Homo sapiens: one gene and its partners. The protein of the gene in region 1 interacts with the protein of each later gene in a pairwise test. Each region holds a gene or a part of one and is shown in the gene's direction. Other genes may lie near its edges.

Region 1 (7,028 bases):
ACTGCTGATGAGTAGTATTTCATTGAACCTAAATGTACCACAATTTATTCATTCAGTCTCCTTTGTTGGACATAAAAATGGTTTCAAATATTTGCTGTTAAAAACAACAATGCTACAACGAACACTGTGTTTCTGAGAGTTTAACAGAAACTTTCAAAAACATCTTTGACTACCACTCATGGCAAGAAAATGTTTTGATTACATCCCAGTACATACATACTGTGTCAAAAGTTTAATAAAACAAAATTTTATCCTCATTACATGCAGTACACTATGATATTTTCTATTCTATTTTTCTCATTAAAAAAATGCTGGGTATTCAGCAAAGGTCTGACTGAAAAGAAATGCTGGGTATGACTCACTACCTCAATACATTGACTGATTTTTTTTTTCTTTTGAGACAGAGTCTCACTCTGTCGTCCAGGCTGGAGTGTAGTGGCACGATCTCGGCTCACTGCAACTTCCACGCCTCCCGGGTTCAAGCAATTCTTCCGACTCAGCCTCCCGCGTAGCTGGGGCTACAGGTGCATGCCGCCACGCCTGGCTAATTTTTTGTAGTTTAGTAGAGATGGGGTTTCGCTGTGTTGCCCAGGCTGGTCTGGAACTCCTGAGCTCAGGCAATCTGCCCGCCTCGGCCTCCCAAAGTGCTAGGATTACAGGTGAGAGCCACTGCTCCTGGCCTTGAGCCACTGCACCCGGCCTTGATTTATTTCTTGAGCTACTGGTAGGTGAGGCTCTAGGGCAGTGCCGTCCAACTGACATGGTGCAAAAACAAAAAATTTTATATTTTCTAGTAGTCATATTAAAAATGTTTAAACAGATGAAAATAATTTTAATGATCTAATTTTTTTAACTCAGTGTATCAAAAATGTTATTATAACATAATCAATATACAAATTATTAATAAGTTATTTTACATTCTACATTTTTTGGTACAAAGTCTTTGAAGTCTGGCATGTATTTTATACTTAAAGCACATCTCATTTTGGATCAGCCACATTTCAAGTGCTCAATAGTCACATGTGGCTAGTGGCTACCATATTGGACAGTGCAGTTCTAGAGTTTACATTTGGGAGTGTAACTGCTGAGTCAAAAGCTATGAGCATCTTTAACTTTATAGATATTGCCAAATTGCTGTCCAAAATGGTCTTAATTCAAACTCCCTTTTCCCCATATCCTTACTAATATTTGATATTGTCAGACTTTTAAAATTTTACAATTTTGAAGACTGTTGTCATTTTTATTTACCATTTTACTTTGGAATAATTTTAGATTTACAGAAAAGTTGCAGAGATAGTGCAGAGAGTTCCCATATACTCTTCAGGCAGTTTCATTTTCCCAAATGTTATCATCTTACATGGGTGTTGTTTTGACTTATATTTTCCTGATAACTAGTGAAGTTGGTGTACTTTCATAGATTTACTGGCTGTTTGAGTTTTCTCTTATGCACACATAAACTTTTTAGTCAAGTTTTATAAAAATGGAGCATAAAAGCCTATCCAATGGCTTTTAGCAATGGCTATAGTTCATTCCTTCTTAGGGAGAATTGACATAACACCAGTCTTTTTTGTATCACCAATCTCAATAAATTTTCAAGACCAAGGCCAGGCCTGGTGGCTCACGCCTGTAATCGCAGCACTTTGGGAGGCTGAGGCGGGAGGAATACTTGAGCCCATGAGTTTGAGACCAGCCTGGGCAACAGAGACCCTGTCTTCACCAAAAAAAAAAAAAAAAAAAAAAAAGCTGGATGTGGTGTTGCATGCCTGTAGTAGTCTCAGGAGCCAGAGGTGGGAGGATCGCTTGAGCCTAGGAGGTGGAGCCTGCAGTGAGCCTTGATTGCTCCAGCTTGGGTGACAGAGTGAGATCCTGTCTTAAAAAAAAAATTCAAGACCAGGAAGGAATAGAAATTTGTCTAGATAATTACACCCACTGGGGCTAAATAAATGTAACTCCTTTTCTGCATGTCATCTTCAACTATTTGAAGATAACTTATCTTGTACCCCGGAAAGTGTCTTCAGATTGAGCATTCTCAGTTTGTTCAAACATTCCTGATATTACCTGGTTTCTAGTCCCCTTATCATTTTGTGTGCTATCCTTTAAACATGCTCTATCCTTTTCGTGTTATTTCTTAAAGTGTGGTACCCAGAATAGAACACAATTCTCTATGTTTGATATGATCAGCATAAAATACAGTCATGTGCTGCATAATGACATTTCAGTCAATAAAGGACAGCATATACAACAGTGGTCCCAGAAGATTTTAATGGAGCTGAAAAGTTCCTATCCCCTAGTGATGTCAGAGCTGTTATAAAGTTGTAGAGCAATGCTTTATTCATGTGTTTGTGGTGATGCTGGTGTAAACAAATCTACTGTGCTGCCAGTTGTTTAAAACTATAGCACGTACATTTATGTACAGTACATAATACTTGATGGTGATAATAAATGACTATGCTACTGGTTTATGTATTCACTATACCATACTATGCTATCTTATACTATTTTTTTATCATCATCTTAGAGTGTACTCCTTCTATTTATAAAAAATAAAGTTAACTGTAAAATGGCCTCAGGCAGTTCCTTCAGGAGGTATTCCAGAAGGCACTATTATCGCAGTAGGTGACAGGTCCATGCATTTTATTGCCCCTGAAGAACTTCCAGTGGGACAAAACGTGGAGGTGGAAGACAGTGATAGTGATGATCCTGAGCCTGTGTAGGCCTAGGCTAATAATGTATGTGTTTGTGTCTTAGTTTTTAACAAAAAGTTTAAAAAGTAAAATTAATAATGTTAACAGAAAAAAGCTTATAGAATAGGGATATAAAGAAAGAAAATATTTTTGTACAGCTGTATAATGTTTGTGCTTTAAGCTAAGTGTTACTACAAAAGCGTTAAAAAGTTAAAAATAATTAAAAAGTTTGTACTTTGGGAGGTTGAGGCGGGCAGATCACTTGAGCTCAGGAGTTCGAGACTGGCCTGGGTATCATGGTGAAACCCTGTCTCTACCAAAAATACAAAAAATTATCATGGCATGGTGGCACGTGCCTGTGGTTCCAGCTACTCTGTGGTCCCAGCTACTCCATAGGTTGAGGTGGGAGGATTGCTTGAGCCTGGGAGGCAGAGGTTGCAGTGAGCCGAGATCGCACCACTGCATTGCAGCCCCAGTGACAGAGTGAGACCCCATCTCAAACAAACAAACAAACAAAGCTTATAAAGTAAAAAAGTTACAGTAAGCTAAGGTAAATTTATTATTGGAGAAAGAAACATATTCTTTTATAAACTGAGTGTAGCCTAAGTGTGCAGAGTTTATAAAGTCTACAGTAGTGTACAGTAATGTCCTAGACCTTCACATATATTCACCACTCACTCACTGACTCACCCAGAGCAACTTCCAGGTCTGCAAGCTCCACTCATGGTAAGTGCCCTATACAGGTGTACCTTTTTTTATCTTATAAAAATTTATTATTATGTTATTTGAGGTAGGGTCTCACTCTCTCACCCAGGCTGGTGTGCAGTGGTGTGATCGTGGCTCACCACAGCTTCTACCTCCTGGGCCCAAGTAATCCTCCCACCTCAACATCTTGAGTAGCCGGGAATCACAGGCATGCACCACCATGCCCAGATAATTTTTAATTTTTCTGTGGAGACGGGATCTCCCTATGTTGCCCAGGTTGGTTTCGAACTCCTGGGCTCAAGCGATCCTCCTTCCTCGGTGTCCCGAAGTGCTAGGATTACAGCTGTGAGCCACCGTACCCAGTCATTTTTAATCTTTTATATTTTTACTTACCTTTTCTAGGTTTAGATATGTTTAAATACACAAATACTTATCATTGTGTTACAGTTGCCTGCAGTATTCACTACAGTAACATGAGTTATAGGTTTGTAGCCTAGAAGCAATAGGCTATACCATATAGCCTAGATGTGTAGTAGGCTATACCATCTTGTGTAAGTACACTCTATGACGGGGTCCTCAACCCCTGGGCCACGGACCATTACCTGTCTCTGGCCTGTTAGGAACCTGGCTGCACAGCAGGAGATGAGCCCTGGGCCAGCAAGCATTACCGCCTGAGCTCCGCCTCCTGTCAGATCAGTGGCCAGTGGCATTAGATTCTCACAGGAGCCTGAACTGCCCACACGAGGGATCTAGGTTGCATGCTCCTTATGAAAATCTAACTAATGCCTGTTGATCTGAGGTAGAACAGTTTCATCCCGAAACCATCCCCCCACCATCCGTGGAAAAATTGTCTTCTACAAAACTGGTCCCTGGTGCCAAGAAGGTTGAGGACCACTGCTCTATGATGTTGGGACAATGACAAAAATCACCAAATTACACATTTCTGGAATGTATCCCTGTCCTTAAGTGATGCACGCCTGTAATCTTTCTCTTTAGATTTAGGACTGATGATTTTTCTCTTTAGATAATAATATAGCTAAGACTGAATTTGCTTTTTCTTTCTTTCATACCACGCTAGTTATTCATTTTGAACTTTTTGCCCCCCAAATCCCTCAGTCTTTTTTAAGTATTTATTTATTTATTTAGACAAGGTCTCACTCTATTGCCAGGCTGTAGTGCAGTGGCGCTATCCTCCTAGGTTCAAGCGATCCTCCCGCCTCAGTTTCCTGAGGGAATATAGGCATGCGCCACCATTCCTGACTAATTTTTGTATTTTTGGTAGAGACAGGGTTTCACCATGTTTCCCAGGCTGGTCTCCTGAGCTCCTGAGCTCAAGCGATCTGCCTGCCTACTGGCCTTTTTTCTAGATTTTTCTTTCTTTCTTTTTTTGAGGCAGAGTCTCACTCCATTGCCCAGGCTGGAGTGCAGTGGCATAATCTCAGCTCACTGCAACCTCCACCTCCCAGGCGCAAGCAATTCTTGTGCTTCAGCCTCCTGAGTAGCTATGACTGCAGGCATGCCAGGCTAATTTCTGTATTTTTAGTAGAGACAGGGTTTTGCTGTGATGGCCAGGCTGCTCTCGAACTCCTGGCCTCAAGTGATCCACCCACCTCAGCCTCCCAAACTGCTGGGATTATAGGCATGAGTCACCACTACTGGGCTTCACTGATCTTTTATATATATATATTTTCATTTTAATTTCGTTTATTTCTATTCTGGTCTTTATTATTTCTTTTCTTCAACTAACTTTGGGTTTGGTTTGCTTTTGCTTTTCTAGTTGTTTAAGATGCATCATTAGGTTGTTCGGAGTTTTTCCTCTTTTTTGATGTAGGCACTCATAGTGATAAACTTCACTCTGTATCCCATACGTTTTGGTATGCTGTGTTTCCATTATCATTTGTTTCAAGAAAATTTTCAATTTTCTTCTTCTTCTTCTTTTTTTTTTTTTTTTTTTGAGATAGAGTCTCCCTCTGTAGCCCAGGCTGGAGCGCAGTGGCACGATCTCTGTTCACTGTGACCCTGCAACCTCCGCCTCCCGGGTTCAAGCGATTCTCCTGCCTCAGCCTCCCAAGTAGCTGGGATTACAGGCACCCACCATCACACTTGGCTAATTTTTGTATTTTTATTTTAACTAATTAATTAATTAATTTTTTGTTTGTTTTGAGACAGAGCCTCACTCTGTTGCCCAGGCTGGAGTGCAGTTGCACCATCTCGGCTCATTGCAACCTCTGCCTCCCAAGTTTAAGTGATTCTCGTGCCTCAGCCTCCCAAGTAGCTGGGATTACAGGCGTGCACCACCACTCCTGGCTATTTTTAAAAAAATATTTTTAGTAGAGACCGGGTTTCACCATGTTGGCCAGGCTGTTCTGGCCAACATGGTGAAACTCCTGACCTCAGGTGAGCTGCCTGCCTCAGCCTCCCAAAATGCTGAGATTACAGGCATGAGCCACCACACCTGGTCCTTTTTTTTTTTTTTTTTTTTTTTTTAATACAGGACCTCTCTTTGTCACCCAGGCTGGAGTGCAGTGGCATGAACGTATAGGTATGCACCACCACGCCTGGCTAATATTTGTATGTTTTGTAAAGACTGGATTTTGCCATGTTGCCCAGGCTGGTCTTGAACTCCTGAGCTCAAGTGATCTGCTTGCCTCGGCCTCCAGATTACAGGAGGTGCTGGGATTACAGGTGTGAGCCACGGTGCCCAGCCTCTATATTTTCTTTTTCTATTATATTTATGATGATTGTTAGGGAGGTAGACATTAGCTAATTTGTTTCATCAAGTCTTCAGAATATAGTTCCAATGTATACTCAATACCAGCCCTGTCCAGTAGAAATATAATGTGAGTTAGAAATGTAACTTAAAATTTTCTAGTAATCACGTTTAAAAAGTAAAAATAAATAGGTGAAATTAATTTTTAATATAATAATAATTTTAATGCTATAGCCCAGCATATTCATACATTTTTGTTCCAGCATATAATCAGTATACAAAATTGCTGAGATATTTTACTTTCTTATTTTAAACTAAGTCTTTGAAACCCATGTGTATTTTACAATTAAAGCACATCCCAATTTGAACTAGCCACATTTTAAGTGCTCAGTAGCCATATATTGCTACCATATTAGAGAGTGCAGATCTAGACTAAAAAGTTTAGTAGTAAAACTCAGTCAAGATAATTGGCTTTCATTGAATCTCAAAGGACTTTATTTGTAATCTTCCCTGAACTATCTTTTCCTTTAAATACAACAATGGGATCCTCAGATTAAGAATGACAGAGTTATTAGGAAATATCCCAAGACAGGGCCACATAGTTTAGAATCATGAGCATACTTATTTTACAGCCTGTACAGAAATCTTACAGATAATCAGTGAGATAATCACTGATGCCACCTGGTATGCACCTATTAGGGGGAATAGTACAGTTTATGGCCGGGTGCCGTGGCTCACGCCTGTAATCCCAGCACTTTGGGAGGCCGAGGCTGGTGGATCATGAGGTCAGGAGATCGAGACCATCCTGGCTAACACTGTGAAACCCCGTCTCTACTAAAAATACAAAAAATTAGCTGAGTGTGCTGGCGGGCACCTGTAGTCCCAGCTACTCGGGAGGCTGAGGCAGGAGAATGGCGTGAACCCGGGAG
Region 2 (7,028 bases), on another chromosome or scaffold:
TAGGACCTTAGAACATCACAATAATATTTATCCCATTTTCAAGCACTTGTGTTTATTTATTGATTTTTGAAATGGGGTCTCACTATACTGCCCAGGCTGGACTCAAACTCCTGGGCTCAAGTGATTCTGCCACCTCAGCCTCCCAAGTAGATGGGATTACAGGCATGCCCGGCTTTTAAAATTCTATATTTATATTAAATGTCATAAAACTTTTTCATTATTGTCATTGCTTGTTAATCACGTGTTTGTGCAGGAAGCCTTGGGAATATGACAGACCTGGGCTTCTATCCCACTTCTACTGCGGAGTAGCTGTGTGATTGGTCCTTTGTGCCTCAGTTTTCCTATCTATAAAATGGGTGTAATGGAGTTGTGAAGATTATGAGGCTTGATACCTGTGAAATGCTTAGGATACTGCCAGGCACACAGTGAAAACTCAATAACAGTTAGCTGTTGATGGTAATGACAACACCCCTGCCTCCCATTTGCTCAGCCAAGAACAGAGGGTCCTCCCTGGCTGGTCACTCCCTGGCGCGGGGCTGGGTAGGGCTGTGGGGAGCCACTCACTGCACAGGGAGGATGGTGTCCCTTTTCTTTCCAGGTGTGCAGGTGTGGGTTCCTCCCTCCCTTCCTCCCTCCCTCCCTCCAGGTGTGCAGGTGCTGGCTCCTCCCTCCCTTCCTCCCTCCAGGTGTGCAGGTGTGGGTTCCACCCTCCTCTTCTCCCTGCAGGTGTGCAGGTGTGGGTTCCTCCCTCCTCTTCTCCCTGCAGGTGTGCAGGTGTGGGTTCCTCCCTCCTCTTCTCCCTGCAGGTGCGCAGGTGTGGGTTCCTCCCTCCCTTCCTCCCTCCAGGTGTGCAGGTGTGGGTTCCTCCCTCTCTTCCTCCCTCCCAGTGTGCAGGTGTGGGCTCCTCCCTCCTCTTCTCCCTCCAGGTGTGCAGGTGTGGGTTCCTCCCTCCTCTTCTCCCTCCAGGTGTGCAGGTGTGGGTTCCTCCCTCCCTTCCTCCCTCCAGGTGTGCATGTGTGGGTTCCTCCCTCCCTTCCTCCCTCCAGGTGTGCACGTGTGGGTTCCTCCCTCCCTTCCTCCCTCCAGGTGCGCAGGTGTGGGTTCCTCCCTCCCTTCCTCCCTCCAGGTGTGCAGGTGTGGGTTCCTCCCTCCTCTTCTCCCTGCAGGTGCGCAGGTGTGGGTTCCTCCCTCCCTTCCTCCCTCCAGGTGTGCAGGTGTGGGTTCCTCCCTCCCTTCCTCCCTCCAGGTGTGCAGGTGTGGGTTCCTCCCTCCCTTCCTCCCTCCAGGTGTGCAGGTGTGGGTTCCTCCCTCCTCTTCTCCCTGCAGGTGCGCAGGTGTGGGTTCCTCCCTCCCTTCCTCCCTCCAGGTGTGCAGGTGCTGGCTCCTCCCTCCCTTCCTCCCTCCAGGTGTGCACGTGTGGGTTCCTCCCTCCCTTCCTCCCTCCAGCTGCGCAGATGTGGGTTCCTCCCTCCCTTCCTCCCTCCAGGTGTGCAGGTGTGGGTTCCTCCCTCCTCTTCTCCCTGCAGGTGCGCAGGTGTGGGTTCCTCCCTCCCTCCCTCCCTCGAGGTGTGCAAGTGTGGATTTCTTGCCCTTTTCTCCCTTGCCTTAGCACTTGAGACCCAGAGAATCACCCAGTGCTCACAGTGCCTCTCCAGGTCTGACTGCTGCCTCCTGAGTGCTCTTTCAAGGCCATTTCTTCTTGCTCTTTCCTCTGAGAATATGGCAGTGTCCCCTTTGGAATCATTTGTTTGCTTTTCACACTTGAAATCCAGACCTAACTTTAGAATCATGGAGTCACACAGCAGAAAATACTTGCGGCTGGTCGGTCCGTGCAGCCCATAGGGTAGGAGCCTGTGGGAGTGGGCAGGGCCCTGGCCCCGGACTCTTCCTTCTTGGACCTGGCCCCTCGGGTCGTCATCCCCTCCCTGGGCAGCCCTGTCTTCATACCTTGACAGTATCTCTGAGGGTTGATGGCTTCTCACCTCACCATGCGGCGGATTCCTCTAGGGGGGTTTAGTAAGTGACATCTTCTTTTCACCGCCCCAAGACCCCCATTCTCTGTCACATTATTACCCAGGAGCCCATGTCCCTTCCATCAGACCCTCTCCCTTTCTGTCTCTCTGGCTTCAAGGGGAGCAGCTGGGGTGGGGAGGAGGAGCCAAGAGGGTTTCACTCCCCGCCGTGACAGATGCACACACGTGTGCACCTTGGCCTCTAAAGCTCTCCCCACCCCTACCCAGGGGACTCGGAACAGGAGGTGATACTGACCACCAAGACCCCTAAGGCCACAGTGGGGGGCCTGAGCCCCTCCAAGGGCTACACCTTGCAGATCTTCGAGCTCACTGGCTCTGGGCGCTTCCTGCTAGCTCGGAGGGAGTTTGTGAGTAAGTCCACCGTCTGCCAGCTGGGTACCCACTCCTCCAGGCCGGGTCCCACCCTCCTCTGGGCTGGGGTCCCACCCTCCTCCAGGCTGCGTTCCAGCCCCAGGGGTGGGTATGTGTGAAGCAGTTCTGGGCTGTGCTAGGGGCAGGTTCAAGTCCCGACTCACCAGCAAGGCTGCCTTGCCCCTGACATCTTTGCATGCCTCCCAGGCTCCTGGGCCCTCAGCACCCACAGATGCGCCCTTGAAGGGGTGTATGTGCAGCTGCCCCAGTGGACCAGGCCCTCCACTCCCACCCTGATGGCTCTTTGTGTCTCCCTGCAGTTGAGGATCTGAAGAGTAGCTCCCTGGACAGGAGCAGCCAGAGGCCCCTCGGCTCTGGAGCCCCGGAGCCCACCCCCTCCCACACGGGGAGCCCAGACCCTGAGCAGGCTTCTGAGCCCCAAGTTGCCTTCACACCAAGCCAGGATCCGCGCACTCCTGGTGGGTCAGAGTGGAGAGAGAGTAAGTCTCCGGGGAGGGAGTGACCTTTGGTTTCCCACATTTCCCACCATGAGGCCAGGAAGTTCTTCCTCGTGTCTGACCACACGGTCTCTGACCACGAGGCCAGGAAGTTCTTCCTCGTGTCTGACCACACGGTCTCTGACCACGAGGCCGGGAAGTTCTTCCTCGTGTCTGACCACACGGTCTCTGACCACGAGGCCGGGAAGTTCTTCCTCGTGTCTGACCACACGGTCTCTGACCACGAGGCCGGGAAGTTCTTCCTCGTGTCTGACCACACGGTCTCTGACCACGAGGCCGGGAAGTTCTTCCTCGTGTCTGACCACACGGTCTCTGGCTTTAACTTAAAGTTGCCATGTTCCCAGGTTCACTCAAGCCAGGCCACTGGGAGCAGGTGGTCCCACTACCTCTGACCCCTTTGGGAACCTCCAGCCTGGGTCTAGGGGGTGGTGAGAGGGGTGGGTCATGCTCCCCCAGGAGTGGGATCAGGAGCAGAGCTGGTCCGGGGGCCCTGGAGGGAGGGCCCTGCCCAGCCGGCCCCAGGCGTGGAGAGGTAGAGCCACACCAGGACAGAAGAGAAGCCAGGTAAGGGGTGGGCACAGACGGGGGCAGTGCACTGTGTCTGCCCATAAGGCCCCCGTAGGCAGGGCTGGGCTTCCCCATAGAACTGGGAGGGCCTGGCTTTGTCTCCTCCATCAGACTGGGGTCCTCAGAAGCAGGATTCTACCTCCCCCGTCAGACTTGGAACTGAAGGAAGTGTTCTCCTCAGACTTGGGCATATCCCCTCCAGAGGGTCCTCGGGTCCGCTGCTGTCCTCCCCTCAGGGTGCTGGGCTCTGCTGGGTCCCCTGGACTTGGGCTCCCCCAGGGGAGTGTCCCCACCCATGCAGGCCTCAGGGCAGCTGGGCCTCTTCGGTCGCCCCACGGGGGGCTCCACCGTGATGGCTGCTGGCCTCGTTCAGGCATCTCCCCGGGGGTCTGGCCCTGGCTCTGGGGCCCGCCTCACCAGGCACTGCTCCTGCAAAACCCCGGGGAGCGCCAGACCGGGGATGGCGGCTTTGCCTCCACAGCGCCGCGCTGCGGTGCTCACGGCGGCTCTGCTGGGGCTCTTTGTGGTGCCCACCCTCCCCTCCTTGCCTGGTTTGCACCTGGTGGGCTTCTGGGCCTGATGTCTGGGCGGGCAGCTGCATGCAGCCGTGGAGGGCAGAGGTGCCCGAGCACCAGGCTGCCTCACATTAGCGGTGGCTCGATGTGCAGCCGTGCCGGTGTGGGGCTGTCTAGTCCGGTGAGGCCTGAGGGCCTTGGAGTCCTTTCCCCTGAAACCTGGCCCAGCCTGCCTCACTCTTGTGGCTGGAGCCCCGGGGTAGGTGATCTGGGGGCCTTGGACCAGGGATGGGCCTCACCTAGCACCTGACCCGCTCCCACCGCCCCAGCCGGCCCCCAGTTCCGCTGCCTGCCCCCCGTGCCTGCTGACATGGTCTTCCTGGTGGACGGGTCCTGGAGCATTGGCCACAGTCACTTCCAGCAGGTCAAGGACTTCCTGGCCAGTGTCATCGCACCCTTTGAAATCGGGCCGGATAAGGTCCAAGTAGGTGGGTGCTGGCCCGGCCCGCCTCCTGCCCCACCCGGGTGTGGTCCCCACAGCTCTGCCAGAGGAGGCTGTGACCTGTGGGGGTCCCCGTACCAGCCAGGGCTCTCACCTTGTGGGGTGGGACGCCTGCTCCACATGGGGTGTTCTGGGGACCCCTCCGTGTGGAGGCCCTGGCTCTGCAAGCGTCCTCTCCCTGGGGACTGGCTACTGTGGCCAGGTGACCCCACAGAGGCACGTGCAGCTCTCAGGTGTGGCCTTGTGCCAAGCTCCCTGGGCATCTCAGCATTGGAAACTCAGCCCGTGGCCATGCCCCTGCTCCCCAGGCCTGACTCAGTACAGCGGGGATGCTCAGACTGAGTGGGACCTGAACTCCCTCAGCACCAAGGAACAGGTGCTGGCAGCTGTGCGCCGCCTCCGCTACAAGGGGGGGAACACGTTCACAGGTACGGCCCAGGCCTGCCCCTCCCTCTGTCCTGAGGGCGGACCTCCTTCTGCCGCCCTCCCAGATCCCGAAAGCTTGTGTGTAAATCGAGCTCCAAGTGGTGTGGACCTGAGCCCTGTTCACACCTTTATAGAGGGCAGAGTCACCCCCTTGTTTACCTTTGATGAAAACGAGGGCCTGTGTCCAGCGCGTGGCTCCTCTGTTCCACATTAGCAGCTCTGGCTGGGTCCACACCCGGCCCAGTCTGGGTGCTCACCTTGCAGGTAGGGTCTGGCTGGGGAACTTGGGGCCCTTCAACAGGTAGACCCTCCCTGCTCCCTTGGGCTGCTGCGGGGCCTCCTGATACCCCACAAGGGAAGGAGAGGAGCATCTCTGCTGTCCGGTTGCTGCCAGCCGAGCACCAGGAGGGGATGCTGGCAGCTGCCTGTCACTTTATTCCTGCTGCTCCCAAGGCCTTGCCCTGACCCACGTGCTGGGGCAGAACCTGCAGCCGGCGGCTGGCCTCCGTCCAGAGGCAGCCAAGGTGGTGATTCTGGTGACGGACGGCAAGTCCCAGGACGATGTGCACACTGCTGCCCGTGTCCTCAAGGACCTGGGCGTGAACGTCTTCGCTGTGGGTGAGCACCATGCGGCTCCCCCGGCCCTGGAGTCTCACCGCCGGGTGGGTTTAGGGTCGCAGCAGGGAGCTTGCATTGGGCACCTGGTCCCTGAGCCCCAGCTTCCACATCTGCGGCACGGAGCTGCACGCAGAGCCAGGCACCGCCTGGCACTCAGAGGCGATGGCACAGGCGGGCTGCTCCTTTCCAATCGCCTGGTGTTTGGTGCCCTCCGTGGAACCACCCCAACCCTCCCCCTGTGGCGTGAACTTCCCTGGTGAGATATTCACTGAGCAGCTCCAGCTGCCCCCTCTGGCCACCATCCCTGTGCCTGGTGACTCCCGCCTGCTGTGCCCTGGCAAGGAGCTTCCTGGCATCCTCCAGGGCCTGGGACTCACAGGCGAATCAACTCTGTCCTGTGGGGAGGAAACCCCAGATTTCGAGGCAGGAGTCCCAGGAGCACAGACCCTTCCTTGATGCCCCCAACCCCTCGGGAGCGCCTGGCCCAGCATGTGGGTGGCAGGTGGGCCGAGTACAGCCCATAGGCCTCTTTACTCCTGACCCAGTCTCCATGGAGACCCCCACCGCAGGTGGCCCCGTCGGGTGACCCCAGTGCAGGCCAACCCCACCTCCCTCCTCACGAGCAGGTGTGAAGAACGCCGATGAGGCTGAGCTGAGGCTCCTGGCGTCCCCGCCGAGGGACATCACCGTCCACAGCGTGCTGGACTTCCTGCAGCTCGGCGCGCTGGCTGGCCTGCTCAGCCGTCTCATCTGCCAGAGGCTCCAGGGTGGGAGCCCGCGGCAGGGCCCAGGTGAGGGGCAGGGTCACCCGCACAGGCTGCAGCCCCCCCGGCTGCTTTGGGCAAAGGGTTGGGGGGACGCTGTGGCTCCCGTGTGGTACCTGAGGCCGGCTCCTGTGGCTCTGAGGGGGTCTGCAGCACCCCCTTACATCTGTCCACAGAAGGGCTGGGGAGCAGCTTTCCTGTCCCTCCTGTGAGTGGCCACCAGGGGGAGCGTGGACACAGCTGCCCGTGCAGTGACCACCTGCCCCCCACTCCCGCTACTCCAGCAGCAGCGGCTCCAGCCCTGGACACCCTCCCTGCCCCCACCAGCCTGGTCCTGAGCCAGGTGACCTCCTCCAGCATCCGCCTGTCCTGGACTCCAGCCCCCCGGCACCCCCTCAAGTATCTGATCGTTTGGCGAGCCTCTAGAGGTGGCACCCCCAGGGAGGTGAGGGGGCCGGTATACAGGGCTCCCCGAGCCGGTCCTCAGCCGTAGTGAGATCTGATAAGCCAAAGGGAGGGCAGGAATAAAGGCCCACAAATAACTGGGTCCAGGCTGAGAAGGGGGTGTCGAGGGGCTGACAGCCCAGGGACTCACTGGGGAGCTGCGTCTGGGAGGCAGCCTGGGATGAGTGCATTTTAGTGGCCGAGGAGGGCAGAGCAGGGGGCGTTCCGAGGGTGCTGGGGTTAGGGTCAGACTCAGAGCGCCTTCTCCCTTTGATTGATCGATCGATGGA
Region 3 (7,395 bases), on another chromosome or scaffold:
TCACATGGATCAGATTTGAATTCTAGCTCTTTACTTCCTGTGTGACCTTCCCTAACTTCTCTTTGGTCTTTTTTCCCCATCTGTAAAATGGAGGTATTACTAACTACTCAACATAAAATAGGTAACTGGTTTAGTGAGAAGTCTCAAATCATTGGAAGTATATACTCAAAGTTTTTTCTCCCCCAATAACACTGCCAGCTGTACACTGTTGAAAATCCCCTTTTCCACTGAGTACATCTCAATCCAATTCCCCAACATTTTGAACATTTTCAGCTTTCAACAGTCCTCTTCCCCACCAGGGCAGGTCAGGTAGGAGGCTGTGTGTGGGTTTGTGTGTGAAGGCATGATCTGCTTTCTTGAATCCACACTTCCAACCTTCTATTTACTGTTCCAGTGTCTGAAAAAGCAGGCAGGGAGGGAAGAATTTGTCTTCTTATGCACTGTCCAGGTTGCTGTCCCAAACAAGTAAATGATCTTGTCTCTTTTCATACGCTCAGGATGACCAGGTGGTTACCATAATAAGTTCCATTGACAAAGATGTCAGTCCTAAGCAGTTCCTGAAAACATTGATGGTCCTTTGGAAGACTTCATCTGTTGGCAGAATTCTATCCCTCCCACACCCACTTCCTATCCCAAGGACTGCTTCAGTGGTCCATATCATACCTTCTTTCTTATTGGTTATTGCAACCCAACTCTGGAGTCAAAGGTACAGGTGAGATTCATTTTCTGTACCTCCCAGGAATCAGGGACTTGAGATAAGGTGTCCTTGTCTTGGCCTCGCCATACCACCTAGCTACCTCTCCCTAATTTTCCTTCCTTTATTTTGGTAGCACTGGGTAGGAAATCACAGCCTAGAATGAAGGTTTCTATGAACTTGGCTCCCAAAAATTTGGTATATATTTGTTAAGAGTGTACTATTTCACCATAATTCCTGGACTAATTAGTAACCCCAAAGGGTCAGGAAAAGATCCCAGTCACTACTTTATTCTGATACATGTATATAAATTATCATCTACAACTGACCTGGCCTATACCAATGAATGTTATTTTTTCTTGGTGAGCTATAACAGTTACATTTCTAAATTGTATGTTTGTCTGTATTACCAATATAGGATGTACACATACACTGTTCTAACTATTTTACAAAGATTAACATGTTTAAACCCCACAGCAATCCTGTGAGGCAGTTATCATTATAATCCCCAATTTACAGGTAAGGGAATTGAGGCACAGGTTAAGTAACCTATTTGTTTTCCATTCACCTATTTGAATTCTACCTGCCAGGGATCCAATTAAGATAGTCAAATCCATCTTCAAAAGAAAGAGTGTTTTTTTAAATTATAAATGATTTTTGGGATTACAACAATCCACAAATAATTGGATAACTTGTCACCTTTGTGATCTGGAAGAGGTTGTATAGCATGGTCCTTGATACACACTTGATATACAAGAATTGTCTAGTCCTTGGAATCTTTTAGAATTCATTCATAAATCTCTTTCTATGTAGTAGCAATAGTTCTTTAGGAACTATTTCAATTGTTATTGGTTGGTTTACTTTTCCTACATATTGTTGGGTTCTTTTGCTATTTATATATTTTATATTTTTGTAAATATAAAGCTCTCTTGAGCTTTCCTCATATTATGCATGGGGTTTCCTTCTCATTTTATTTATTTTTTAGAGGCAGGGTTTTGCTCTGTTGCCCAGGCTTGAGTGCGGTGGCACAATCATTACAGCTCACTACAGCCTCCAACTCCTGGGCTTAAGTGATTCTCCTGCCTTGGTCTCTCAAAGCACTGGATTACAGGCATGAGTGACTGCACCTGGCTCTTCTAATTTAAAAATATCACTTTTATTCATTGTCATATCCCTCTTCAGTTCTGTAGATGATGTTTGCACAATCTGATAAATTTGAATCAGAAAAACACATGTAAGATAGCTCAACTTAATCAGTTCAAAGATTTATATACAAATTTAAGAATTATAAATGCAACACTTATTTTTCAGTTTTAAATAATGTCTTTTTTTGAAATGAGACATTTTAAACAAATAGTTTAATATAGTTTGGTATTAAATGTGGCATTTTTAGTACTATTTTCTTCTTTTGTGATCTAGTTTATATTCTTAAAAAGTCCCCTCCCAAAACATTAAATATCCTAATTTCATCTGAGCAATGATACTTATACACACACACACACACACACACACACATACACAGAGTCACTATTTTCATTACTTATATCTGCACAGAACAACTGCCAAGATTGAGGTTTATTGAGGTTCAACGATAACTGTCTTTGCTTTTAAAATTCTCCTTGTAGTCCTAACACACTGTCACAACAAAACAAAAATATGGCAGTTTACCACATGGGGTTTAGTAATGGTTAGATAGTCCTTAGGTTCTCCAACTTGTGTTATGATAAATTTTAATCATTCTGAAAACCATGGCTGTATCATACCATGTACATATCATCCATGTATCATGGATTTGGGGGGAAGCATTAGTTCAGTATATACTCAGAATTCATATGATTAAAAGAAATGGATACTTTAGCAACATAATATTCTCACTTAGTATTTCAATTAGTTCTAATTGCATTAGCCCTCTATCCTCCCAAGTTTAATTACTAGGGACACAAAAATTTCATATTTGGTGCCAAGTGCCAAAAGAGCAACATGTTTTTACTGTTTGCTTTTACTCTGTAATAGATATTGAAATATTTTAGATACTTTCACCTTCGCATGTACTTTTTTTGTGTGTAGTAGCATGCCCTTTATATTGATAAAAAGATGTAGAAAACCCGAGTAAACGATTTTCTTTAAACACTGTTTAGAATTAGGAAATTGGCAGTTTTGAAATAATAAGTGTATTTTAAACTCGCAAAGGCCAAGATATTTCTGTAATATTTTATACACTTCTTAGAACTGCATCACAAATGAATTTCAAAAATTCTGTTCCTGAGACTGTGGTAACTACAAAGCATGAAAAAAAAATCTATACATAGTGCTATAGCTTCTGCTAATTTTCTTTTTGGGACTTAAAAAAATCTATCCTCTTCAAGTGTTAGATAAAACGAGCTAGTGCACATTAAAATAATAAAAAGGAACCAATCACATTCGTCTTTCATGTTTCTGTATCTTTTTATCATCAGAAACAGCTGACCCTTGGCTAACATTACATGATTTGGAGAAATAATTGGAAGTCTACCACAGGGAGACTAAATGTAAAACTCCAATCAGATAAATTACAACACGGATGTGGTAAGTGATAGAACACACACCTAAATCTAATTTAACTTCCAAGAATTTTAAGTAGTATTTCCCAATTAAAATGTCTTTAAGGGAAAAATGCAAATATGAGGCCTTTGTTAGCAAGATTCCAGAACAGGAAAAGCGGAACTCAAAGCCTCTCTAGTTAAGCGACCTGCGTTCCGACTTACCTCTGAGTGATGGGCCTACTGCAGAGCCCGCCTCCCACCACAGTGCTGGCCCAGAATTTTTTATACGAACTAGTTCGTAACTAAACGTTGGAAGCATCACCATATTGCCAGTGAGAAGTAAGATTTAAAAATAAAACGATGCTGTCCCTTTTCGCCCTTCCTTAGGACGTCTCCTCCTGCACTAAGGGTTCAGGTGAAGGGTGGAAACTGGCCAAGAAGAGGAAGAACGTGAAGGAGTAGGGGGCAAGGAGGAAAGGGCTCCCTTTACAGACTTTGGTGCCATTTTTACTTTCTGCTTGCTAATCTGAAACGTTGTGCGATTACAATGACGGCCCCTCTCCCCCTCGGGTACTAATTACCCCCGGGCCTTTTCCGGTGCACATCCCGGTGCTATATTCTGGTGCCTGTGTTGCCCCCACGCCCCCATTAAATTAGTAAAGGAAAACCACCCCTTTTCTGCCCCTAAAGTAATCTATAAACGAAGGAATACAGATGAGGATTTAAATCCCAATCCTAATTCCAAGGGAGGCTGGAAGCCCCCTCAGCCGCGCCCTGGCTTGGCTTTTTCATCTCGAGCGGTTGTGACGCCAGGGGCAGGTCTTCCACGTGTCTTCACAGAGGTGCCCGGAGGGAGGGCGTGAGGGATTACCCAAGGGAGGGGCGAGTATCGCAAAATAGGCCAAGTCGCTGCCCTCTACTCAACTCGCAGGGCGGGAGGATGGAGACAGAGGGATGCGGCGGGAGGGCGGGACAGCCCAGTCGCCGCCAAGGAGGCGAAGCGGGGTCGGGGTAGCTCACCCGCCCCCCGCAGTCCCCGCCCCCCGCAGTCCCCGCCCCGCGCGGCGCCGCGCACGCCTGAAGTCATTGCCCGAGGCCCCGCCCCCTCGCGGCCCCAGCCCCGGCTCTGGCTCTGCCGGCGGAGGGGGCGGAGAGAACCCGCAGCTGCAACTTCGCCTGGAGCCTTTGAGCCTGGGCTCAGCCGGGGATCTAGCAGCCGTCACCGCCGAGTCGCCGCTTCCCCGGCGCGGGCCTCAGCCCAGCCGGCTTGGCCATGGCAGGCGCCGGCAGTGCGGCGAATCTGGCCCCTGCGCTCCCCGCCCGTAGCTGAGCAGCCGTTAACCAGCCATCCCGCCTTTCCTCCTGCCCGTGTCGCCGAGGCCCACGCTCCGCGCAAGTTTCCGCCGCCGAAGAAGCAGGAGGACGGACGTGAGGAGTCGGGCGTCCCTGGCCCACCCGGCCCTCTCGCCCGCGATGTGGGGGCGCTTCCTGGCTCCGGAGGCCAGCGGCCGGGATAGCCCCGGCGGAGCCCGCAGCTTCCCTGCCGGTAAGGAACGGGACAGCGCCCCGGCTGGGGTGGGGGTCACGGCCGACCGCGGCGCCTCGGGACCTCGCCGCCGCTCCCCTCCCGCCTCAGGCCTGTCTTACCCCGGCCGCCTCCCCGACGCCGCCGCGTGCCCAGTGTCCTCCCCGCTGTCAGCACCCGGGCTGACATATGGCTTGCCGCGTCCCAGGCGCATCAGCCCCGCATCCCGTCGTCCCCGCCGCTCCTCCTTGGGCTGCAGCCCCAGCGCCCCCAACTTCCAGCTCGCTTGGGCCCCCGCGGGTTGGGCTTTATTGTCTGCCCGGTTTTTTCCTTTTACTCGTGGGGTGTGTGACCTGCGTGATAACGGGGCTTGCCCGTTTGCTCGCGGGGACCCGGGCGGGAAGGTCGCTGCGACAGTGCTGCGGCGGCGGCCCGGGCGCGTCTCGGAGGGGCCGCAGTTCCGCGCCCTCCCGACTTCTGGTAGGCGCAGGCTGGGGTTGGCTGTGCCCACGCCCGCAGCCGCTACTTTTAGGGCGCGTTTTCGGGAGGGAGGATGCTGCCAGAGATGCGGCCGCTCTCAGCCACCCCCAAGGGAACTTCAGCCCCTCGGAGGAACCTGGTCGCCGCCCCGCAGCCCCTGCGGCGTAAGAGGAGGGCGCGTCCTGCAGTAGCCAATGGACCATTGAGCAACCGGGTTACGAATCCGTTTGGCTTTCCGTGGCCCCTTCAAGGAAAATTAGGGGTTTGCTGCATTCCGTATCTGAAGGGGTCTGTTTGTATCGGACAGCCATTTCATGCTTGCGTCGCTCAGAAGTTGTGTAGGAGCCACAAAATTAGGATAAATCCTCCCCTAACTTGGGATAAAAAATAAGTCTTGGGTTGCCTGTGATATGTTCTCTAAAGATGATGGTCTTTCCAGGCACTTTTAATCTTGAGTTTTGAGGCCTTTTGAGAAACTGAGTTATATGGACATTCTGCGCAGAAAAAACAATGCCATATATACATACGCAAAATTTTCCCTACAATTTTAGCTGTTTCTGGGACTCCTGTTAAGTAACCTTGCTCCACAAAGTGTTTGAGCTCGACTTGTGTAACTTAGAGATATTTTTGCATACATTTCCAAAGCTGTTATTTACAAAACAAAAAAGCAGAAGCAGCATTTGGAAAGGGGTCTTTTGATGGTAATATTTTCTGCTATTTAAAAAAAATCAGGCACTGACCGAGTCACTAGTATCAGGCTATTGAAATTTCGAATAATGCAATTCTTTGATAGTTTAGATATTTGTGATGTGTGGTTTTTAAAAAGACATATGTACATTTTAAAAAGCCAGAGTTAGATTTGAATCATTCACTTAAGTTTGGTCCTGAAACACTTAATGTATGTTAATGAATGATTTGAATCATTCACTTAAGTTTGATCCTGAAATTTAATGTAGGCATGAATTTAGTAAAAAGCAGTATTAAGTAGGGATTTTTTTTTTCTAAATTGTATGTTATTTGTCCTAAGGAGACAGTTCAGAGGTTTCCCGAGTTTACAGATTATTCACAAATCCTGTCATCTAAGTAACTTCAGTGATTGAGAAGCTACTTCATTATCCCTAGGGGCTGGAGGGAGTGGTTTCAGTTTATCTGAAAATGTCAAAAGCCATCTGTAATGTCTTTGCAATCTAACCTATTAAAATTTATTCGTGATAATAGCAGCTTGTTTGGAGGTATATCACTGAGGCATGGTGTCTATTTTTCATTGTTTTCTAGGAAGAAGAGAACATTTTAGTATTTAAAGTTAGGTAACGAAGGACTTTGTTATGTTGCAGCCTCTAGAGAGACATTTGCTATGGCATAGAATAATAGTGGAAGAGGATACTTTGTAATTACTACCCTAATTGAAGAAATTTGGACAGTATAGCTGTACCAAAGTATGTATTTTATCTCAATTTGTCAGTAATAAACTATTGACAAGTCAGGACATGCCTTTGTAAAGTTTTTTTTCAGTTACATGCTGAAATAGTAATGTAATTATTTATTGTGTTTCTTCCCTTTTTGAGCAAATATAAATATTTAAAATTATCTTAGATAATTTTAAGTTTTAAAAAGTTCTACCTTAGATGAAAAACTTGTGTTGCTTCTTGTGCAAGTGAGCAGATGGTGAAGGTCAAGATAATGACCTCTGAGTTGATTCATGTAGGGACCTTTTTTCCTGATAATTGGAAGGAAATTTTTATTTTTGAAATATTGTTCAGTATATCTTTTGAATAATTTGAGCAATTATTCCAGCCCTAAAATTGGACTTGTCTGAAAACAAAGTGTGAAGGCAGGGATAAGTAAATAATTTCTGGTATTAAAATGAGTTTATCTTAATATGTGGATTAATTCAAGCTGTCCTGAAACTGGTTTATTTGTTTATACAAATATATAACTAGACTAAAGGAAAAGCCAAAGGTACTATAGAACCACTTTAGTTTTTTTTTTTTTTTTTTTGAGACAGTCTTTCTCTGTCGCCCAGGCTGGAGTGTAGTGGCGCGATCTCGGCTCACTGCAAGCTCCGCCTCCCAGGTTCACGCCATTCTCCTGCCTCAGCCTCCCGAGTAGCTGGGACTACAGGCTCCCGCCACCACACCCGGGTTATTTTTTTGTATTTTTAGTAGAGACGGGGT
Region 4 (5,771 bases), about 17 Mb from region 1:
TGAAGAACCTTATAAATCTGGCAAAGGGGGTTGGGCCTTATAAGCACTGGGGAGCCATTGCTTTAAAGGTGCTTTCAAAGGCTTTACGCTGAGGAGTGCCATGGTCAGATTTGCTTCCCAAAGATCACTCTGGTAGCCAGTGCAGAGAAATCCAGTGCAGAGAGGGTAACGTTGGAGCAAGAGAACCCAGTGGGGCTCCTGAGATACTGCCTGACACCAGATTGTGAGGCCTGAATTAAGCTGGTGACAGCAGAGATGGAGGGCACAGATACGAAATATATCAGGAAGTAAAATCAGTAGGAATCAATAACTGCTGAAATATTATAGGGAGAAAGGAATGGGGGTGGCGTGTAGTCAAAGACGGTGGTCGGCACTGATGGGCCATTCCACCTCCCTTTTGCTCCAGATGTATAACATAAAACAGTCAACAGATACCAAGGAAGCAGCAGCCATCGAGGCTAGAAGAAATCGAGAAAAAGAGCGACAAAACCGATTCTTCAATGTGCGGAACCGAGTCATGGGGGTGAGTGGGTAGTAGGGACTGTTGCTCAGGATCAGGGCCACCTCACTCTTACACCTGGAGAGGAATGTGTAACAGTGCCCATGATAGCCCTTCCCCTGATTCAAGTAGGCCCCTAGGGCAGGAAAGGAAAGAGAGGGAGAGAAGGCACCCACCCCTACAGGCCTGGGAAGAGCTTGGGAAGAGGGATAGGTCAGTGCAGGGGAAGAGACTAGGGGAGACGGCTGACCCTTCTCCAGTCAGCTCTGGGCCATGTGACCTGGTTCTTGAGACAGGCAACATGGAGCTAAAAGAGGCCTAAAGAATATTTGGAGTCCGGGTGCAGTGGCTTACACCTGTAATCCCAGCACTTTAGGAGGCTGAGGTGAGCAGATCACACAAGGTCAGGAGTTAAAGACCAGCCTGGCCAACGTGGTGAAACCCTGTCTCTACTGAAAATACAAAAATTAGCTGGGCGTGGTTGTGCATGCCTATAATCCCAGCTACTTGGGAGGCTGAAGCACAAGAATCACTTGAATCCAGGAGGAGCAGGTTACAGTGAGCCGAGATCACACCATTGCACTCCAGCCTGAGCAACAGTGAGACCCTGTCTCAAAATTACTGCATATACCTAAACTATCTCTGCAAGGCTATGTTGAGAAACTTAACCAGGCTGAGAGACAGAGATGGAAGGGACACTTACGCCTCACTAAACTGTATTCCTTTTTGTATGATTTTGAAATGTGATAAATGAATTATAATAAAAGAGAAAATATTGATAGTTTAAGAAACAAAAGATTGCTAGGTGAGTGGATAGAGGGGGGATGCAGCATGGTATTCTGGAAAAGACCCCGTAAGTATTTAAGGCCAGGTCTGCTGACTGTTATGTGTGTGGCTTTGGATAAATCACCTGTCTTCTCTGAGCCCCAGGCTCCTCTTCTGTAAAATGAGGCTGAAGGAAGTCAGGTGAGTGTTAACACAGAGTGGCAGCTTTGAAAACCAGTGCATAGTGCCTGCCGTAAGAAGTTGGCTAGGGTATTAGTGTTCTGATTGAGATCCAGCTGACAAGCTGACAAGCATTTCCTCGGGGCCTGCTCTGTGCCAAGCACTGTGTTGGGCAGTGGGGATACGAAAATGACTAAGGCCCAGTTTCTGCCCTGAAAGGGTTCACAGTCTGGTGGAGGAGAGAATACAGAGAGGCGAACATCAATATAATGTAGACAGTGGGTTCTAGATTCTACAGGAGTAGAACCTGCCTGAGGGGTCAGGAAAGTGAAGGCTGAGCTGGTCTCGAAGGACAAATTGGAATTTGTGTAAAGAGGGGAGGAAAGTGTTCCAAGTGGAGGGAGCAGCTTGAGCAAAGGCTATTGGTTCAAAACAGCCTAAGATATTCAGGGAACTGTAAGCACAGCTCATAAGGGTAAGGTGGGACTAAGAGATGAGGCCAGAGAAGGAGGCAGAGGCTAGACCATGGAGAGGCTTACAAACCATGCTCAGGAGCTAGAACTTTATCCAGTAGGTACTGGGGAGCTACAGGATTCTGAAACAGGTAAATTCTAATTAGTTTGTGGTAGGACATTGAAGGCCCCCTGCTGGGCCCCTACTCTGATTGTGCTCCTTTCTTTGGGATCAGGTGGATGTCCAGGCCCTGAACAACCAGGTGGGAGACCGAAAGCGTCGGGAAGCAGCAGAAAGAAGCAAGGAGGCAGCTTATGGTAAAAGCCAAAAGCCAGGGGCCAGACAAGGGTGTAAAGAAAGAGCTCGAGTGGGCTGAGGTAGGGCAGTTCTGCCTCTGTGGCCTGAGGCCCTGGGGTGGTGGGACAAATTGGATGGACCTTGAGAGTAGAGGACATGCTAAGTGGACTCTGTCCCTCCTGGGGTATCTTCTCCATATCCTTGCTCACCACCCCCAGGTACCAGCCAGGTGCAGTATGATGTGGTAGTCCAGATGTTAGAGAAGGAAGAGGCAGATCGAACACGTCAGCTGGCCAAGAAAGTCCAGGAGTTTCGGGAGCAGAAGCAGCAGCTCAAGAACGGGCGTGAATTTAGTCTTTGGGATCCAGGCCAAGTCTGGAAGGGGCTTCCAACCTATCTTAGTTACAGTAATACCTATCCTGGTCCAGCCAGCCTGCAGTACTTCTCTGGGGAAGACCTAGACAGGGACACACGGCTGAGAATGCAGCAGGGGCAGTTCAGGTACAACTTGGAAAGGCAACAGCAGGAGCAACAGCAAGCCAAGGTTGATGAGAATTATACAGGTAAGCAGCCCGGCCCTCCAGACTCAGAGACCTGAGGCCTAGTGGGGATCTGTCCTAAGCTGAGTACAGCAGCCAGGGGACCAGAACTGTGTGGGGAGGTCCACTTATCCATAGGGTTGGTGCTGAAATGTTAGGTTGTGCAGACCCCAACCTCCCTGACTTCCTTCAGTAACTGACAGTGTAGCATTGTTCTTGATTAGTTTGGCACTCCATTACGTGGAGGCAGCACAGTGCAGACAGACCTAATGGCTCTGCCACTTACTAGCTGGTTTGGGCAAATGAATTTTCCCTTCTGTGCTTCAGTTTCTTCATCTTTAAAATGAGAATAATAATTTATACCACATAGAGTAGCTACTATTATGATATTGTCTGTGGCCACATCCTTCTCTTCCATTAGAAGAAGCCCTTCAAGGGCAAGGACCATGTCTTATCTACTTGCACTGTTCACCCTTCACATCAACCCTGTTACAGCACTCTGTTCTGCTGGACCACTTATTGTAGTTGTAGCTAATTGTGAAAGTATTTGTTTAATATCTGTCTTCTCCCTAAAATGTCAGCCTACTGAAGATGAACCATCTCTTTCATGTCTACCCATCTCCCAGTTGCATAGTACAGTGTCTGACAGGTCTTAGGAACAGCAAGGAGCTCAGTGTGGCTGGAGCAGAAAAAAATTGTCAGTACCTTTGCTCATGCCATGCCCTCAGCCTGGAATGCCCTTTGCTCTTTTAGCCTGTATACAAAATGTATTTCAAGGATCACCTCTTCCTGGAAGCCTTCCTCTTTTCCACCATCCAAAACCCTCTTAATACCCTGTGTACATCCCTGCCATTGCTCTTGCCAGATTGTGGTCTATGTTTGATCTGTGTCCCCAACTAGACAGGGAGTTCTCTGAGGACAGGATTTAATTCGATGGTATCATTAGAACCCAGCACATGGCCCTTAGACTGAGATTCAGAGATATGAAATGATTTACCCAAAATCACACAGCTCAGAAGCAGCAGAACTGACATTGGGACCCAGGTCCATTGGAGGCATCTTTTAGTTATGCGCTTGAGAAATCGTTGTTGCTGCACCTAGTTCCTTCCACATCCCTACAACTCGGACACTAACCCCCTCCTAAACATTCGTACACACACAAACACAAAACTTGCTGAACAAATGGCTGGATGAGTGAAACAGGAATGGAGCAAGCCAGTACAGTACCCCGGCCATATTTCTCTGTGTAGATGCGCTCAGTAACCAGCTGCGCCTCGCCATGGATGCACAGGCCACCCATCTGGCCAGGCTGGAGGAGTCCTGTCGTGCGGCCATGATGTGTGCCATGGCCAACGCCAACAAAGCGCAGGTATGGCCTGAGCCATGCAGTACCTTGGGCTCTCCCCAACTCCTGAACAAAATCCTGGAGAACCTTAGCCATATTCTTCCTCTTACATCCCCTCTTAAATCAGCATCAGCCCTCTCATCTGAGTACTCCCCCTTCACTGAAGGCCCCTCTTAGGGTACAAGTCACTTCTCCCCACCTCCAGAAGCAGGATGACTTGAGAATAGAACATTGCCCTCTCATCCTCCGCTTCCCAGTCTAAAGGCTTCCTGAAGGCAGAGAAGTTCCCTGCCCATTCTCCCCAACACATATTAGGGGCATTGAAAGGCCATGCAGTATCTGTTCTTTCTCCTTGAGATGGAAGAGTAGGGCCATGTTCCCCCCTCCCCTGTGACAGAGTTCCCTGAGGTTGGGCACCCAAATGTTTGCATTTGGGGGCTCCACCAGGCAGCTGTGCAGGCTGGGCGTCAGCGCTGTGAGCGTCAGCGTGAACAGAAGGCCAACCTTGCGGAGATCCAGCACCAGAGCACGAGTGACCTACTGACTGAAAACCCCCAGGTCGCCCAACACCCTATGGCTCCCTACCGGGTCCTGCCCTATTGCTGGAAGGGCATGACTCCAGAGCAGCAAGCTGCCATCAGGAAAGAGCAGGAAGTACAACGCTCTAAGAAGCAAGCACACCGTCAGGCTGAGAAAACACTGGATACTGAATGGAAAAGCCAGACCATGAGCTCAGCCCAGGCAGTGCTGGAGCTAGAAGAGCAGGAGAGGGAATTGTGTGCTGTATTTCAAAGGGGTCTAGGATCCTTCAACCAGCAGCTGGCTAATGAGCAAAAAGCCCAGTGAGTTCTAGGTGGTAGTGGTGGAGATAAATGCCAAGGGAGGGAGAGGAGGGATGGTGAGGAACCATGGAGAGAGGGAAAGCATGTCAGCTGAGACCTCTGGACTTCTTTCACAGGCAGGATTACCTGAATTCAGTAATCTACACCAATCAACCTACAGCCCAGTATCACCAGCAGTTTAACACCAGCAGCCGCTAAGTTCAGGATGTCTATCTCTCTCTCCCTTCTCCTCCATCAAGCTCACAGGTGGTTAGGAGTCAAAGAGAAAAATGCTGCATACTCCCACCTTCTAACCTAGGTAATAAAGTTCTGCACTCAAAATCAAGTCCACATGTTGTAACAGGACACAAAGTATTATGAAGGTACTGCCTTTCCCACCCCACCCTGGAGCTCTGAGCATCCAACCCTGTCACAGCCTTCACATTTCTTCCCCATGCCAGGCCCCCTAGCACACAACACTGCCTACACTCTGTGAGAAAAAGAGACTTTATTAGGCACAGAGGGCGACTGGTAGGCAGTTACAAAATGGCTACTGGGCTTCCTCCCAAGCTGGAGAGTAGTACCCCAGGGAAAGGAAGGGCAGAGGAGCGTGTGTTTTCTCTGCCTTCTCCCTTCAAGGCTGCATACGAATGGCCCCATCCAGCCGGATGACCTCTCCATTGAGGAATGGGTTCTCGATGATGGCCTGTACGAGGTGAGCATACTCAGCAGGGTCACCCAGTCGGCTAGGGAAGGGCACTTGGCTGGCCAAGAAGTTGCACACTTTCTCTGGGAGGCTGGTCAGCAGTGGGGTGCCAAACAGACCTAAACAATATAGCCAAATTCAGAGACTCACCCTTGCTTTCATGATT

What was found.
Region 2: the proteins of TEX11 (region 1) and COL20A1 interact in binary tests that used the Homo sapiens proteins (3 or more experiments, as listed by UniProt).
Region 3: the proteins of TEX11 (region 1) and CEP85L interact in binary tests that used the Homo sapiens proteins (3 or more experiments, as listed by UniProt).
Region 4: the proteins of TEX11 (region 1) and RIBC1 interact in binary tests that used the Homo sapiens proteins (3 or more experiments, as listed by UniProt).

Annotation. Positions count from the first base shown.
Region 1 is NC_000023.11:70,898,694-70,905,721, reverse strand, and holds part of TEX11 (testis-expressed protein 11), read left to right. Parts: intron 1-7,028. UniProt on the Homo sapiens protein: Regulator of crossing-over during meiosis. Involved in initiation and/or maintenance of chromosome synapsis and formation of crossovers.
Region 2 is NC_000020.11:63,303,177-63,310,204, forward strand, and holds part of COL20A1 (collagen alpha-1(XX) chain precursor), read left to right. Parts: intron 1-2,240; coding exon 2,241-2,384; intron 2,385-2,704; coding exon 2,705-2,863; intron 2,864-4,313; coding exon 4,314-4,472; intron 4,473-4,794; coding exon 4,795-4,914; intron 4,915-5,365; coding exon 5,366-5,530; intron 5,531-6,156; coding exon 6,157-6,321; intron 6,322-6,578; coding exon of another isoform or gene 6,579-6,581; coding exon 6,582-6,739; intron 6,740-7,028. UniProt on the Homo sapiens protein: Probable collagen protein.
Region 3 is NC_000006.12:118,648,564-118,655,958, reverse strand, and holds the start of CEP85L (centrosomal protein of 85 kDa-like), read left to right. Parts: upstream 1-4,367; 5' UTR 4,368-4,689; coding exon 4,690-4,762; intron 4,763-7,395. UniProt on the Homo sapiens protein: Plays an essential role in neuronal cell migration.
Region 4 is NC_000023.11:53,425,871-53,431,641, forward strand, and holds the end of RIBC1 (RIB43A-like with coiled-coils protein 1), read left to right. Parts: intron 1-406; coding exon 407-523; intron 524-2,132; coding exon 2,133-2,214; intron 2,215-2,412; coding exon 2,413-2,757; coding exon of another isoform or gene 2,758-2,792; exon of another isoform or gene 2,793-3,958; intron 3,959-3,983; coding exon 3,984-4,102; intron 4,103-4,525; coding exon 4,526-4,920; coding exon of another isoform or gene 4,921-4,924; exon of another isoform or gene 4,925-5,036; coding exon 5,037-5,118; 3' UTR 5,119-5,245; downstream 5,246-5,771. Other genes in the region: HSD17B10 (3-hydroxyacyl-CoA dehydrogenase type-2), read right to left, coding at 5,534-5,724.